4 linked regions of the Homo sapiens genome follow. The protein of the gene in region 3 interacts with the protein of the main gene of each other region in a pairwise test. Each region holds a gene or a part of one and is shown on either strand. Other genes may lie near its edges.

Region 1 (3,500 bases), on a different chromosome or scaffold from region 3:
ACCACAAATCCCTAAATTCAGGCTAATCTTCCACTCTCAGTACCCTACAGATACTTATCCGTTTTGACCTTGCTGCTGATTTAATATTCATGACTCAGCAAACTTGGGATGGGTCAGGGAGTATTTACACTGCTTCTGGAATTGTACATTTGGGAAGGTCCCTTTCTCCTCTCTCAGAATTGGGCCCTGTTGTCAGTTTTCTTTTCTTTCTTTTCCTTTTTTTTTTATTTGAGACAGGGTCTCCCTCTGTCATCCAGGCTGGAGTACAGTGGCGTGATGTCGTCTCACTGCAGCCTCCGCCTCCCAGGTTCAAGTGATTCTTGTGCCTCAGCCTCCCGAGTAGCTGGGATTACAGGTGTGCAACACCATGCCTGGCTAATTTTTGTATTTTCAGTAGAGACGGGGTTTCGCTATGTTGGCCAGGCTGGTTTCTGACTCCTGACTTCAAGAGATTCGCCCGCCTTGGCCTCCCAAGGTGCTGGGATTACAGGCGTGAGCCACCACGCCCTCCCGTCAGTTTTCTTAAAGGATAAAATATTAGATCTGGGATCTAAGTTATTTTGTAGCTATCTGAAAATTAAGTTTGTCAGAATTTACTCTTTTTTTCCGTCCTTTTTTTTTTCATGTCAGACTGGCATCCGTAACAAGGGTTGAGGGAGGCATACCTCACCGTGAGCTTGAAACCGCAGTCATCATGCTTAAGACGTACAAAATGGCTTAAGACGTACAAAATGGCCTAATGTATTTTATTCTTTAAGTTGTACTCTCCCAAATGAAGTATTCACCGTCCAGGGCGCAATCTTCCTACTCCAAACCTCATCTGGATATCCTAATCCCCATTCCTTTCTTAATCAACATGGCATCCTCAGCTTCAGTACTTGGTTTTTACTCAGACTGTTCCTGCTCTTCTCCTAGAACCCCCTCCTTTGCTTTGGGAGTCTAGAACTAGAAGACGGTGAAGGTGGGGACCAATTTTATATCTTCTAATTTGAGGAAACCAAAGTACCTAGGAACCTGGGGCTCTCTCTTCCTCTGCTGGCTTGGTGCCAGGCTCCAGAAGCCAAAGCCAGGTGATGCTATGGCCACTGAATCAAGTTATCCTCTGGATCTAGGTGGCTCCCTAATACATTCCACCCACCTGCTCTTGCCTTCACCTGCTTATTTTCACAATGAGCGTAGACTGAGCAGAACTTGGGGCTCACTTCCACCACAGATACCCTTGGAGAAAAAAACTAGTATGGGATGAATGGGTGGAATTTAGGAGCAGAGACAGGATTGGAATATGAAGTTGGGGACAGAGCTAGTTTTGGAGACTAATTGAAGGAAAAAGACCCTGGAAATATAAGGGTTGAGTGAGATTTGGTTGAACTGCTGAGTAATGTGAGAGATTACTCCATTCTGAGCTTTGCATTTCTGCCTTGGAAGTCATGGTAGCTGGGAAAACTAGGGTAATATTGCTGCTCACCCTGGGGCCAAGCCTAACATGGTGGAGGAGAATTGGATTACACCATAGGCATAGCCGATTTGAATATATCTAGGAGTAGAAATCTCTCCACAAAAGCAGTAAATTAGTGATTCTCATCTCTGTCTCTTTTCCACTTCTTTCTGTCAGTGTAACTCCTGCCTTGATAAACTACTTCTAAGGCTTGGAGTAGACATTTTGGGTAAAGAACTGGATAAAGTCAGCGGAAGAGGCTGGTTGGAATAATTCTAGAAATCCAGACGACCCTGCAGCCTCTGCCTCCTGGCTTCAAGTGATTCTCATATCTCAGCCACCCTGAATAGCTGAGGTTACAGCCATGTGCCACCACGCCTGGCTAATTTATATATATGTGTGTGTGTGTGTGTGTATATATATACATACATGTATACATATACATGTATATATATATGTATACATATACATGTATATATATATGTATACATATACATGTATATATATGTATACATATACATGTATATATATACATATACATGTATATATACATATATATGTATGTGTATATATATGTATATGTATACATATATATATAGTAGCAATGGGGTTTTGCCATATTGGCCAGACTGGTCTCGAACTCCTGGCCTCAGCTGATCTACCGACCTCGGCCTCCAAGTGTTGGGATTACAGGGAAAAGAAGAGGGAATGGATAAAATATTAGTGGTTGTGGGAGTGGGGAGGACACTTGAGCAGGAGCTAAGGGAAGAACCCAAAAGGGAAGAGAGACCCAGGCAAGTAGAAGTAAAAGTGCCTCAGAAGACTTGAATGGAGAACAGTAGGAGTTGGCATTAAACCTGAATGAACATGCTCATAACTCAGGTTCTTTTTGAAAAAGGAAAAAAATCTGAATGAAGAGTAGAAAAAACATTTCTGGAGAAGAGAATGTCAGAGAAAGAAAAAGCATGGGTAAAAAAGAGGCCAGGAAGTACCAGTAGTAATTAAAGCCTTGGGCAGTAGTAAGGCTCTAAGAAAGAACATTCAGTCAAGAATGATCTTGACTGACTGCAGCCTCTATAGCAAGACATATCCCTAAAGACGAGAAAGGTGGCTTGTATGAAGAGTGAAATGCAGGCTTAGATTTTCCCATCGTAAGGAAATAGCAATCTGGTAAGTGTTTGTGATTGATTAGTTCTATGAGGTGGGAGCTGTGCATTTGCCAAGGGCATTTTTGGTGTTTTCTCTCCTAAGCTTAGCCTTTGTCCCTAGCAGCAAAGCTCATGAATAGTTCTTGTGTATTAGCCTTTTGAAACCTCTAATTCTTTTATTTTTGTTTATTTATTTTGTTTTTTGAGTCACGGTCTTGCTGTGTTGCCCAAGCTATGGAGTGCAGTGGTGCAATCACAGCTCATCACAGCCTCGACCTCCCTGGCTCAAGTGATCCTCCCACCTTAGCCTCCTAAATAGCTGGGACTACAGGCACAAGCCATCATACCCTGCTAATTTATAAATTTTTTGCAGAGATGAGGTTTCCCTGTGTTGTATGGGCTCTCTAATTTTTTTAAAAAACATCTTTATTGAGCTGAAATTGACATACAACAAAGTAGACATATTTAAAGTGTGCCATTTGTTAAGTTTTGACATGTATGTAACTGAGTCCATCACTGCAATCAAAGGAATGAACATTTCTGTCACTCCCAAAAGTCCTCCATCAACTACCAATCTTCTGTCATTATACATTAAATTGCCCTTCCTGATTTTCGATAGAAATGAAAAGGCAGTTCAATTCAGCTAAGAAAGGATAGTCTTGTCTTTTCTTTTCTTCTTTTCTTCTTTTTTTTTTTTTGAGGCAGAGTTTGCCCTGTTGTCCAGGCTGCAGTGCGATGGCATGATCTTGACTGACTGCAGTCTCTAACTCCTGGCTTCAAGTGATTTTCATGCCTCAGCCACCCTGAATAACTGAGGTTACAGCCATGTGCCACCACGCCTGGCTAATTTATATATTATTATTATTATTATTTTTTTTTTTTTTTAGTAGCAATGGGATTTTGCCATATTGGCCAGA
Region 2 (3,500 bases), on a different chromosome or scaffold from region 3:
AGGCCCTTGTGATTTCTCTGGGGAAAAGGAGGACTGGAGTTGATCATTTATTGAGGCCATCAGAAGCGGATGGCTAATTACATATGGGACATGTGTTAATAATGCTTTGTGTATATAGAGTGGCCTTTACTTTCAAAACACTCTTCTCCAATTTATCATGTTAAAAGCTAGGAATTGGGCTGGGTGCAGTGGCTCACGCCTATAATCCCAGCACTTTGGGAGGCCAAGGCGGGTGGATCATTTGAGGTCAGGAGTTTGAGACCAGTCTGACCAACATGGTTAAACTCCGTCTCTACTAAAAATACAAAATTAGCCAGGCGTGGTGGCACACACCTGTAGTCCCAACAACTACTTGTGAGGCTGAGGCAGGAAAATCATTTGAACCCAGGATCAGAGGTTGTGGTGAACTGAGATTGCACCATTGCACTCCAGCCTGGGCAACAAGAGCAAAACTCTATCTCAAAAAAAATAAAAAATAGCCAGGCACGGTGGCTCATGCCTGTAATCCTAGCACTTTGGGAGGCAGAGGTGGGCAGATCACCTGAGGTTAGGAGTTCGAGACTAGCCTGGCCAACATGGTGAAACCCCATCTCTACTACAAATACAAAAATTAGCTAGGCATGGTGGCAGCCACCTGTAATCCCAGCTACTTGGGAGGCTGAGGCAGGAGAATCGCTTGAACCCGGGAGGTGGAGGTTGCAGTGAGCCAAGATCGGGTCACAGCACTCCAGCCTAGGCAACAGAGCGAGACTCCATCTCAAAAAAACATAAATAAATAAAAATAAAAATAAATAATAAATAAAAGCTAAGAATCAAAGAAGCAGTTTATTCCTAATTTCACAGTCTCATCTGTTCATAGTGGGGCCAGGATTAGAGTCAGTGGCCAAGCTTCCATCCTGGGTTCTTTCCCTTCCCAGGCCCTACCATCATAGTATACCAGGGAAAGACCTGGAGAAGCCAGCAGGTTGACCACCGAACCAAGGCTGGGCCACCTTCCTCCTGGGTCTGGTCTCCAGCCTCCCAGTTGTACCCTTCCCCCAGCCCTTCCTGGATGCACTGATCAGCCTGTGCTTCCTTGCCCTGTTTTTCTTTATAAATAGAGCCATGTTCTCCTCTCTCTCTCTCTCTTTTTTTTTTTTTTTTTTTTGAGATGGAGTCTTACTCTGTCACCCAGGCTGGAGTGCAATGGCACGATCTCAGCTCACTGCAACCTCTGTCTCCCAGGTTCAAGCAATTCTCCTGCCTCAGCCTCCCGAGTAGCTGGGATTACAGGTGCCCACCACCATGCCCAGCTACTTTTTGGATTTTTAGTAGAGACAGGGTTTCACCATGTTGGTCAGGCTGGTCTTGAACTCCTGACCTTAGGTGTTCTGCCCGCCTCAGCCTCCCAAAGTGCTGGGATTACAGGCGTGAGCCACCACGCCTGGCAAGACGTGTTCTCTCTATGTTGTTGAGGCTGGTCTTGAACTCCTGGCTGCAAGAGATCTTCCTGCCTCAGCCTCCCAATGTGCTGGGATTATAGGCATGAGCCACCACACTTAGCCCAGCCTGTGCTTTCTTAAATGAAAATCTAAGCATACGGCTGGGTGTGGTGGCTCACGCCTGTAATCCCAGCATTTTGGGAGGCCAAGGTGGGCAGATCACGAGGTCAGGAGATCGAGACTATCCTGGCCAACATGGTGAAACCCTGTCTCTACTAAAGATACAAAAATTAGCTGGGTGTGGTGGCCCATGTCTGTAGTCCCAGCTACTCGGGAGACTGAGGCAGGAGAATGGCATGAACCTGGGAGGCAGAGCTTGCAGTGAGCTGAGATCGCGCCACTGCTCTCCAGCCTAGGTGACAGAGCGAGACTCCATCTCAAAAAAAAAATAAAAATAAAAAAAAGAAAATCTAAGCGTGGTGCTCCCCTGCTCAAACATCCTCAGGTTCTTTTCATGGCAGATAAGGGCATCTCTTCATGAGCCAGCCCCTGCCTACTGACCCAGCCACCTCTCCCATCCCTTCCCACCCCGTACTTCAGGCTTCAGCAGTACTGATCTTTCCAAAGACCCCAGAACACACATGCCTTCATACCTCTGTGCCTGTACATGCTTGTTTCTGCCCTTGAAATCATGACAGTAGCTCTCTGTAGGCCCCGCTAGCCTGTCCCTTGGGTCTTAGCCTCTTGGAGGCCTTCCCAGAGCCCCCCAAAAGTACCCCAGGCATACTTTGGTTCCTTCTCTCATGTCCCCTCAGTACTTTGCACATACCTCCTTTATAGCAGTTGCTATGTTGTGCCAGAGAAGGGAGTCCTGTGGCTGGGGGGCATATATCTTTTCTTTTTGAGACAGAGTCTAGCTGTGTCACCCAGGCTGGAGTGCAGTAGTGCGATCTCGGCTCACTGCAACCTCCACCTCCTGGATTCAAGCGATTCTTGTGCCTCAGCCTCCTGAGTAGCTGGGACTACAGGCGTGTGCCACCATCATGCCTGGCTACTTTTTTGTATTAGATATATATTTTCTCTCTTAGCACAGTACCTACCAAGAGTGAGTGAGTAGATGTCCTGACCCCTGCAGGCATCCAAGGCCCTCCTTCCCTGGACCTGTTTCCACATGTGTGAAGGGGTGCACAGGCAGCAGCCCACCTCTCAGCTTCCTTCCAGTTCTTGTGTTCTGTGACCCCTTTTCCTCATCTCTGCCTGCTTCCTCACAGCTTGAGGCAGCCCTAGGTGAGGCCAAGAAGCAACTTCAGGATGAGATGCTGCGGCGGGTGGATGCTGAGAACAGGCTGCAGACCATGAAGGAGGAACTGGACTTCCAGAAGAACATCTACAGTGAGGTGGGGACTGTGCTTTGCAAGCCAGAGGGCTGGGGCTGGGTGATGACAGACTTGGGCTGGGCTAGGGGGGACCAGCTGTGTGCAGAGCTCGCCTTCCTGAGTCCCTTGCCCTAGTGGACAGGGAGTTGGGGGTGGCCAGCACTCAGCTCCCAGGTTAAAGTGGGGCTGGTAGTGGCTCATGGAGTAGGGCTGGGCAGGGAGCCCCGCCCCTGGGTCTTGGCCTCCCAGGAACTAATTCTGATTTTGGTTTCTGTGTCCTTCCTCCAACCCTTCCAGGAGCTGCGTGAGACCAAGCGCCGTCATGAGACCCGACTGGTGGAGATTGACAATGGGAAGCAGCGTGAGTTTGAGAGCCGGCTGGCGGATGCGCTGCAGGAACTGCGGGCCCAGCATGAGGACCAGGTGGAGCAGTATAAGAAGGAGCTGGAGAAGACTTATTCTGCCAAGGTGCTTGCTCTCGATTGGTTCCCTCACTGCCTCTGCCCTTGGCAGCCCTACCCTTACCCACGCTGGGCTATGCCTTCTGGGGATCAGGCAGATGGTGGCAGGGAGCTCAGGGTGGCCCAGGACCTGGGGCTGTAGCAGTGATGCCCAACTCAGGCCTGTGCCTCCACCCCTCCCAGTCACCACAGTCCTAACCCTTTGTCCTCCCCTCCAGCTGGACAATGCCAGGCAGTCTGCT
Region 3 (5,361 bases):
CCTCAACTTCCTCATCAGTGAAATAGAGATATGAACAGTAACTAACCCAATGGGTTGGTTGTGAGGATTAAAGCAAATGATGTGTGCAAGGCACTCAGCAGACAAATGGATCCTAATGCGTGTTCCTTCTGCCCTTTTACCTTCTCTATTAACTGGCTCCTAGCTGGGGACACCCATGCAGACTGGTGGGACTTTGCGTCTTCTTGTCTCTGACATGGGTACCTCGTCCTGTGTCTGGAATATAAGCTCCTGAGGACAGAGACCATGTTACATATTTGTTCAATCTCTCCAATTCCTTTTGACTTGCAGGAGAACATCCTTGGGTCGTGCAGTGGAGAGGCACTGGCTCAGAGCTGTGTGTCCTAATCCCAGGTGGGGTCCCAGCTGGTATCCCAGCTCACTGTGTGACCTTAGACCAGCCTCTTTCCCTCTAGAGGCCTCAGTCTTCCTTACTACAAATCCAGGTAACTTTTCTGGACCAGTGCCTACCAATGCTGGATGCCATAGGAATCGTCTAGGGTGCTCCTTAAAAATACAGATTTGAGGTCCACAAGCCTAGATCTTGCTGGAGCAGAATCAAATGCCTGGGTCCCAGTCTGCAGGACTCTCTGCTGATCTAGACACAAAGTTAGCACTCTTCAAAATCATCTGGTTTATCTCATAATGATAACAGTGAGAATGATGAATTAAAGGCAGTTGACTCTTCCAAGAACCACTTACCCCCCACTGCCTGTAGATAAAGGGGATACCAGGGCTCCATAGATGGGATGTGCTTTCAATATCAACTTCTAAGTCAGCTTTCTGAGTGTGATAATCATCCCACCCTTCCAAGCTAAGATTTCATAACAATTGTATTTATTCTTTGGATTTGCTAGCTATAAGATAAAAATATGGCTTAAAATGTGCTCCAAAAGAAGGCTGCCACAAACCATGAGGCCCACCCTTGTGAGAAGAACCTAGGATCCTCAAGGAGAAACATTTAACCTCAAATGCTCCACCCCAAAGCAGCAAGTTGAGAGATACTTCAAATGTGAACATTTATGCTGTTGAGGACAAGTTGAAACTAGCACCTCATATGATTGCTGATTGGTCTAGGAAAATAACCAAGATCTTAAAAATGCTCGTTCCTATGGATCCTATATAACTCGGTTCTGAGGTTCTGACTTAAACAATTTATCTCAAAGAGGGAGAAAAAAGTTCGCAAAATAGTATCCATGATTGTCTCTATTTTGATTGGGATGAGGTACTGCAAACAAATGAAGCTGCATTTTCATTTGCTCATTTTACTTACTGTATATAAGTTATGCTGTAATTAAAAGGGGAATATTTCTGAAAGAGACATTAAAGCCTGTTCTGAAACTTGTCACCTAAAACCCATGGAACCTCATGCAAGTTACTTGCTGTCTGTGCCTCTCATTCCCCATCTGCAAAATGTGAGGGTTAAATGATTGAAGACTAGTTTAACTACTTGGTACACTGCCTGCCACACAGAAAGCTTTCGATAATTGTTCGCCGTTTTTATTATCATTATTGAAACAGCAGCTTGGTAAATAATCTAAATGTTCAGCAATAAGGGCATGATTAAATAATGTTGTGGTCATTAAAATTATTTTAAATTGAGTTTGCATAACACTAGGCAGTGTTTATATTATCCCTTTAGGTAATTTAAGAGAAAAAAGTCAGAATAATGAGATTGAATATAAATCATAACCTCAATTATGTTTAGAAACATGCTAGGAAGAAAGCATGGAAAGAAACACCGAGGTCGTCTCTGGGCATCGAGACAATGGATGGTATTTCTTTTCTTCTTTTAGCTCTCCTTCCTGAGGAGCATAGGGCAGAGCTCTGCATGCCTTGAAGGCAGTCTTTCTGTAAGGGTTGGCCCCGAAGCCTTAGAGCAAGGCAATTTCTCCATTTCAGGCAGTCCCAAGGGGGTAGTGAAAGCGAGGCTGAGGTGGGGACTGGGCCCTCTGTTAGCCAAGGGAGGGCAGTGGGGAGCCTGGCTAGCCACAAGTACCGCAAAGTGCTAAGTTTCTGGGGCAGGCAAGGGAGAGGAACCAATGGTAAGAGACTGCCCGTCACTAACAACACCTTCCCCTTCTCTTTGCAGCTCAACTATAAGGACTGTGAGAAGGCAGTGAAGAAGTACCACATCGATGGGGCTCGCTTCTTGGTAAGCTCTGGCTAGTCCAACACACTGAAACCAAGACTGTTCGGCACTTTTCCCCATGGCTGCAGGGCCAACTGGCCTACCCTTTCCCTGGGGACACCCGAGGATCCCTTTGCTTTTTCCAGAAATTTGGTAGGGCCCCCTCTCTCACTACCTTTCAGGATCCTATCATCCAGAACCCCTCTCTGATCTTCCACTTACACCTTAAGGAGGAATCCAAGTATAGTAAACAAATAATCTGGAAAATCTATTTAAATGCCATCCATCCTTTGAGAAGCCCAAGGGGAAGAAGGACCATATGGGTGAACAGAAGCTTCTCACCTCCAATCTCTCACTCTGGAGCACATACTCATGAGTGGAATAAAGGATGGCATCACCCTCATTGTTTCAATTACTTCCTTCTTTCTCACTACCAAATTCATAAAGCTGATTTTGCATCAAGCACACATGTGATATGGCTGTCTCCACTGTATTATACTTCAAAAAGCTTGAAGTCTAAGACCAAGGTGCAGGTATGTATTAAAGACTAAGCCATTAAAGGGAAAAGGATGCAGCTCTAATGGTGGAGACAGAGGTGCTAGGTTGTGGTCGGGGAGGTGGTTTGAGCATTTTCCCTGAAATGACACCTTTGCCCATGGGTTAAGAAAGACCCTGACTGCACCAATCCATCCTTTCTGGGAACTTTGCTTTACTCTTTGAAAATAAGACTTCAAGGGTCTCATGGGGGTAGATGTTCCTAATTTAAATTCAGAGTGAATAGAGTAAGCTAAGTTGTGTCTCCCTGTAAGACACTGTCAGTAAGGGAACTTGACCATGAGACTTCAGGCCAGTTGGATGAGACCAGAGAGATCACAAGCTCCAGCTTGCCCCCAGAGAACACCAATCCATTTCTTATATTACATCTCTGCTACCAACATCTTCTTGAATTCCTTCAGTGATGGTGAGCTCACCACCACCCACAGTCATCTGCCCCTTTCTAGGCAGCTCTCAAGTCTTGTGCTGAAACTAACCTGTGCTCCTATTGGTCTGAGTTTTGCTTCCAGGTGCCATGTAAGACATGTTTATTCACTGTCCACCTAAATCATTCATTCATTCGCCTATTCGTTCACTTGACAAGCAGTTTCCCGAACTGCTTTTACATACTGGAGAGCATTATAGGTGGTGGGGATAGAGAAATGGCTAAGATGTGATTTCTGCCTTCTAGAAACTTGTTTTATAGCAGAAAGGTATGTTCAGAAAGGCTTCCAACTACCTCATTTGCAGATGAGGAAACACATGCAGAGCTGTGATGTGATTTGTTCTATGTCACATACCTACTAATTGAACTAAGGCATACACTTAATTTAGTCTGATACCATTTGACTTTTTAACAGTATTATTTATTTGTATTGAGATTTGAGTCAGTAGAATTCCTGGAGCTTTAGTGCCATTCTTGCAAATTACTGCTAAACCCAAATATTTCATTCTGGTGCTATTAGCACTGAGAACAGAGACTTATCACAGTTGAATGGAAAGGGAGGAAGACATCTTTGAGGATGGTGCCTACGACGCCCTGTTGCCTGGGTCACCCTGAGCAAGTACTTGCCCTCTCTGAGCCTGCCTTGCTTCCTACCCTGTTGACTGAGCACATTGGACTGGGTCATAGTGGGTGATGGCCCCTCCCGGCTCTGTAATTCCCCACAACAGTCCTGGTGCGAGTGTCAGGCCTGGTAGAACAGGGTTGTTTGAGAGATGGTATCTAGGCAGCTATGTTTCCTCTGCTCCAATCAGTCCTCTATCAGTCCTTCAGACAATGTGGCACATTCTGTTCATTGTATGAAGAGGAGGAAGTGCAAAGTAGGGTGATAGGAACCAGAAGAAAAGAAGAAGAATCCAGTGCCTGTCCCTGCAACTGGGGGATGTAAAGGCAGCTTCTGCTGAAACCCACCCTCCACCCCTAGTGCACTGGGTACAATTTGGGACGCTTGATCTAAGCTCTAATTACTAATCTATCACCCTTTCCAGCTCTGTAATATCCAGGGCCACTCTGCTATTGAAGGCAAAAGTGAAAGGCCCTAGTTATTTTTCCTTCCTTCCTTCCTTCCTTTCTTCCTTCCTTCCTTCCTTCCTTCCTGCCTTCTTTCCTTCCTTTCTTCCTTCCTCCCTTCCCTTGTCCTCCCCTCTCCCCTTCCCTTGTCCTCCCCTCTCCCCTTCCCTCTTTTCCCTTCCCTTTCCTTCCCTGTCTTCTTTCTTCTCCCTCTCTTTCTTTTCTTCCTTCCTTCCCTCTCTCCATCTCTCTTTCTTTCTCTCTTTCTTTCTCTCTTTCTTTCTCTCTTTCTTTCTTTCTTTCTTTCTTTCTTTCTTTCTTTCTTTCTTTCTTTTCTTTCTTTCTTTCTTCTTTCTCTCTCTTCTTTCTTTACTTCTTTGCCATTTTTGTTTTCCACTGAAAAGGTTAGATCCTTATCTGGTAGAAGCTATGCTTCTAGAAGTTATAAAAAGAAGAGAAAAGGAGCTTGAGACTTGTGTCAGTTGGGAAGGCATGTGACCCCATGTTGCAGAAACCTGACCACAGTGGCCTAACCAAATAAAGGTCAGTCTGTTTCAAGTAATAAATGTATAGGCGGGTGCCAGGGGATGGTGAAAGAAGACATCAAGAACCCAGGCTTCATCTAACCGATGGAAAAAGCCTGTGGCTTCTGTCCTAACAGTTGTCAGTTGGCTACTCCACCTTTAGGCATCATATCTCCATGGCAGGCAGGGAGACGGGGAGAAAGGCAAAGAGGAGAAGGTGTATGGTGAATGGTAAATGCATGCTCCCTTTTTTCCAGGGAAGTAGTAACTTTTCCAGAAGCTCCATCCAGCAGACTTTGGTTATATCTTACTGTCCACAACAGAGTCATGTGACCTCCACCATCTGCAAGGGAGCCTGGAGAGTTAAATATTTTGAACAAGCACATTTACTGCCCTGAATGAAACCCAGGACCTGTCAGTAGGAAAACAAAGGGAGAGTGGGTATTGGGTAGGCAAGCAGCCATGTCTGCCACATTGCCTCTCCCACCAGGGCCCAGTTTGTGGCTTTCCTCTTTCTGTACCCCTCTTCTCAACACCCACAGCATATAATCATACTCCCACAAAGCCATAAATCTTAACTCCAAAATCATCATGCAAATAACCCAGAGTTTACTGGAGGCTTTTGGAAAAGGTGGAGGAGG
Region 4 (3,500 bases), on a different chromosome or scaffold from region 3:
CTGAACCCCTCAGAAACCTTTCCATCCTGGCATGCTGCGAAGGAATTATGTCAGATCATGAACCTAAGGGCTCTTGGTGGCCTAGTGGTGGCTGCGAAAGCCAGCTCTAACCTGAGAAATGCCAAAATGAGCAGGAAAACACATGGGGACGGGGGGAGGCAGTGGATGGTGGGAAAAAAACAAGCAAAGGACTTGTCCACTTGTCCACCAGGACAGGTCCCTGGTAGTCACAGATGACAGCTGAGAACGCCTTGGTTATGAACAGGAAATACAGCAAACCTGGCATGGTTCTGCTGTCAGGAGAAAAGAAGCCACACACACACCTCAGGGCTCTTGCAGAATCCCCATGGAACAAGGCATGCACACTAACAGCTGAAAATGGCCCGTGTCACGGCAAGATCCATCAGGACAAGCTGCCCTGCACAGCATCAGGCCACGTGGAACCTCAGACAAAGACGGTGCTGCTATGTGTGCAGAGCCGATGCAAGTCCCAGTAAAGCTCTTTCCGCCCTATATTCCTAGAATCATATATGTTGTTCCTTGACTTTCTAAGTTAGGAGAGAATGCAAAAAACCCTGAAAGGCCCCCATTAAAAAACTGTTAAAAGGAAATACAAACAATTCGTGCTTTAGTTCTTTAGAAAAAGTTAGCTCATTCTCTAACAATATAAGACAACTGAGACAGTGGGGTGCAGAGTTCTGAGATGAAACCCAGACAATGCATGCATCCCTCCTTATCCAAAGGGACTTGGTCCCTGAATTCAGACAGCAATGACCACCTGTGCATGTTCCACAGAAAAGCCATAGGTCCTCCCTAAGGCCAGCAACCCCGGAGAACACCTTTTTCATCTACCCTCTAAAGTCTTTCCTCTTTTCCCCAAATCTTAGGCAGAAAGAATAATGACTGGGACCAATGTCTCCACACTGCAGGACTTCCTTCTGAGAAGTCTCCTCAAACTCAAAAAATTTTAAGCCAAGATCATATTTTGTGCATTATACTTAGCCCTTAAGGACTCTGGACCAAGCACTTAATATTGTAATTGGTTTTCCAGCGCTTTCTCTAAGTTTCTGCTCGATTGAGTTAAAAGCGCTGCTGTCCTTAATTTGCTTAAGGCTTCAAACACGATCTAAAAGAAGTGGTGCACAGAGCTCTCGTCATGTGAGAACAATTCAATGTGATGTCTTGCCAGGAATGATAAACTCTGGTGACTTGATAAATCTCAGAGTTCAGATTTCAGATGAAGTTAGCTTTCAGCCTGGCATTCCCGTCCAAGCACATGTAAGGCTCCGCAAAATTGATGACACCATAAAGGAGTCCAGTTTCCACCACCACGATGCTCCGTCCTCAAAGAGAGCACATCCCAGTCGCCTCTCTCTGGAGGGCTTTGAATGCCTCTCTGATCAGTCAACAGGACCCTTGAATGAGCACTTATTCATTGTGCCAGTAATCTTTTCAGAGGACAGCAGTGGCAGCAGGTAGTACATACTTACTAGTCTTATAGCGTGCATTTAAAAATGAAATTGAAGCCTCCTAGAACCAATACAATTCAAATACATTAAACTCTATCTCCTAAATGCTTGTTTTGGAAGTCTCTCGATTGTAGAAGGTGTATTCGGAAAGACGTTTGCAAAACTGGTCGAGTATTTCCTTCACACACGAAAAGCCTGCCTTCTGGGATGCAGGCTTGACCCCATGCCTGAAACTCACCGCCCCCAGCCTGCCCACCGCTGAACTGGGTCTGCTGCCCCAGTCGAGTGGCCTCATATCTCCGACTCACTGCACACAAACAAAACTCATCTCTCCCAAGAACCCCTGTTTTCTTTTCAATTTATCTCGTAAGTGCTTTAAAAGCTTTTGAGAGATGAACTCAGTGGCGCTGCCTGCCGTGGCAATGACCTTGGGATTATATGGTTTACAAAGAGAAAGCAAGCAAACAACAAAAGGAGGTGTCAGAAACCAGCCACCAGTCTTGCAAAGAATGCTTTCTCTGGGACACAGACCGAATAGAAACAAAGTAAATCACTCGGGCCTTCTACGTACACAGAATGGGCAACCAGGAGAGAAAATGATGTTTGAGCCTGTGAAATACAAGAGGGGGAATCTTGGGAGAGAAGCAGAACCACCTCTGTGAGCTAAAAACATCTTTTTAGTTAATCTCCCACCTCCAGAAATGGACACCCACTATCCCCAAAACAGATGCAAGTAAATCACGGAGTAGCAAACATTATACTAAATTGCATTCATCTGCGTCTCCCGCTCTTTCTAGTGTACTCACACAATGTGAAAAGGGCGCGGCACACAGACCCACCGCGCAAGGCGCATTTACTGCCTGCAGCCGGAGCTGTGGGCGCAGCGCACTTACCGAGGACTCGCTGTCCCTAATGAGGAAGTCGCCCTCCACGCCCCGCTCGTTGAGGGCGCACTCGGCCTGGTGCCGCGTCACGTTCCCGTAGTACCACTCTCTGCCCGCGAAGCGCCCGCTGGACGAGGGCCCGGTGTAGCTTATCTGTGGGGCGTGCGCAGGGTGCAGGGCAGGCCCGTCACTGAGGACCACCACGTAGTTTTTGGGGACGAGGCCCACCTGGCCCCGGGCATTTTTGCATTTCCACCACTCGGGGTCGTTCTCCGGCTTCTCAATCACCTCCATGGTCTCCCCCTTCTCGAAGTTGAGCTCCTCCTCGGTGACTGAGCTGAAGGGGTACAGCGTCTGGACCACATGCAGCACGCGGGAGCCCTGGCCATTGCTCAGCGAGGCGCCCTTGCGCAGGCTCAGGAAGCTTGGGGACTCCGCAGCCGCCTCGTCCACCTCCTCCAAGACGTAGTTGGAGGGGAACCAGCCGATCTGCCCGTTGTAGCTGCCCCGCCACCAACCGTCGCTGCACTTCTCCATGACGGTGACGCGCGACCCCTTCACCAGGGACAACTCATCCTCCCGCTCGGCCACATAGGCGAACTTGACGAAGGCCGGGATGTTGAGGTCGTAGATGCGGTCGGCGCCGCTGCCATTGGCGGGGTACTCGGCGTCCGTGCTGGGCGTGGGGGACGCATCCCGCGCGCTGGTCTTCCTGCGCGTCTTGCCGAGGCCTGTGGAGACACAGCAAGGCTCAGTGGCGCAGGGCACTTGGGCACCACCACACTCCCTAGCCTACCGGGATTTCCACGCAGTTTCTCTGGCGGTTAAATACAAGGGGACGACACATGGACAGTGCTTACAAACTGTAATTACCATGAGAAAAATACGGTTGCTGGCAGCTGCCTCCTGTAGTTGCGAAGTTACTTAAAGTTGAGAATTAAATTGATCTATTTTATCCATAAAAACATGTCACAGGGCCAGCACAGTGGCTCACGCCTGGAATCCCAGCCTTTGAGAGGCCCAGGCGGGAAGATTGCTTGAGGCCAGGAGTCTGAGACCAGCCTAAGCAACATAGCGAGACCGTGTCTGCAAAAAAAAAAAAAAAAAAAAAAAAAAAAAAAATTAGCCACCTGTGGTGCACATCTGT

What was found. The genes of interacting proteins can lie anywhere in the genome.
Region 1: the proteins of LCP2 (region 3) and FXR2 interact in binary tests that used the Homo sapiens proteins (3 or more experiments, as listed by UniProt).
Region 2: the proteins of LCP2 (region 3) and LMNA interact in a two-hybrid assay, tested with the Homo sapiens proteins (one large-scale study listed by BioGRID).
Region 4: the proteins of LCP2 (region 3) and NCK2 interact in binary tests that used the Homo sapiens proteins (3 or more experiments, as listed by UniProt).

What each region holds. Positions count from the first base shown.
Region 1 is NC_000017.11:7,608,398-7,611,897, reverse strand, and holds part of FXR2 (RNA-binding protein FXR2), read left to right. Parts: intron 1-624; exon of another isoform or gene 625-717; intron 718-3,500. UniProt on the Homo sapiens protein: mRNA-binding protein that acts as a regulator of mRNAs translation and/or stability, and which is required for adult hippocampal neurogenesis. Specifically binds to AU-rich elements (AREs) in the 3'-UTR of target mRNAs.
Region 2 is NC_000001.11:156,131,711-156,135,210, forward strand, and holds part of LMNA (lamin), read left to right. Parts: intron 1-2,692; coding exon 2,693-2,818; intron 2,819-3,094; coding exon 3,095-3,265; intron 3,266-3,476; coding exon 3,477-3,500.
Region 3 is NC_000005.10:170,290,122-170,295,482, reverse strand, and holds part of LCP2 (lymphocyte cytosolic protein 2), read left to right. Parts: intron 1-2,110; coding exon 2,111-2,173; intron 2,174-5,361. UniProt on the Homo sapiens protein: Adapter protein primarily involved in signaling pathways within T-cells, as well as other immune cells such as platelets, mast cells, and natural killer (NK) cells.
Region 4 is NC_000002.12:105,880,912-105,884,411, reverse strand, and holds part of NCK2 (cytoplasmic protein NCK2), read right to left. Parts: intron 3,085-3,500; coding exon 2,363-3,084; intron 1-2,362. UniProt on the Homo sapiens protein: Adapter protein which associates with tyrosine-phosphorylated growth factor receptors or their cellular substrates. Maintains low levels of EIF2S1 phosphorylation by promoting its dephosphorylation by PP1.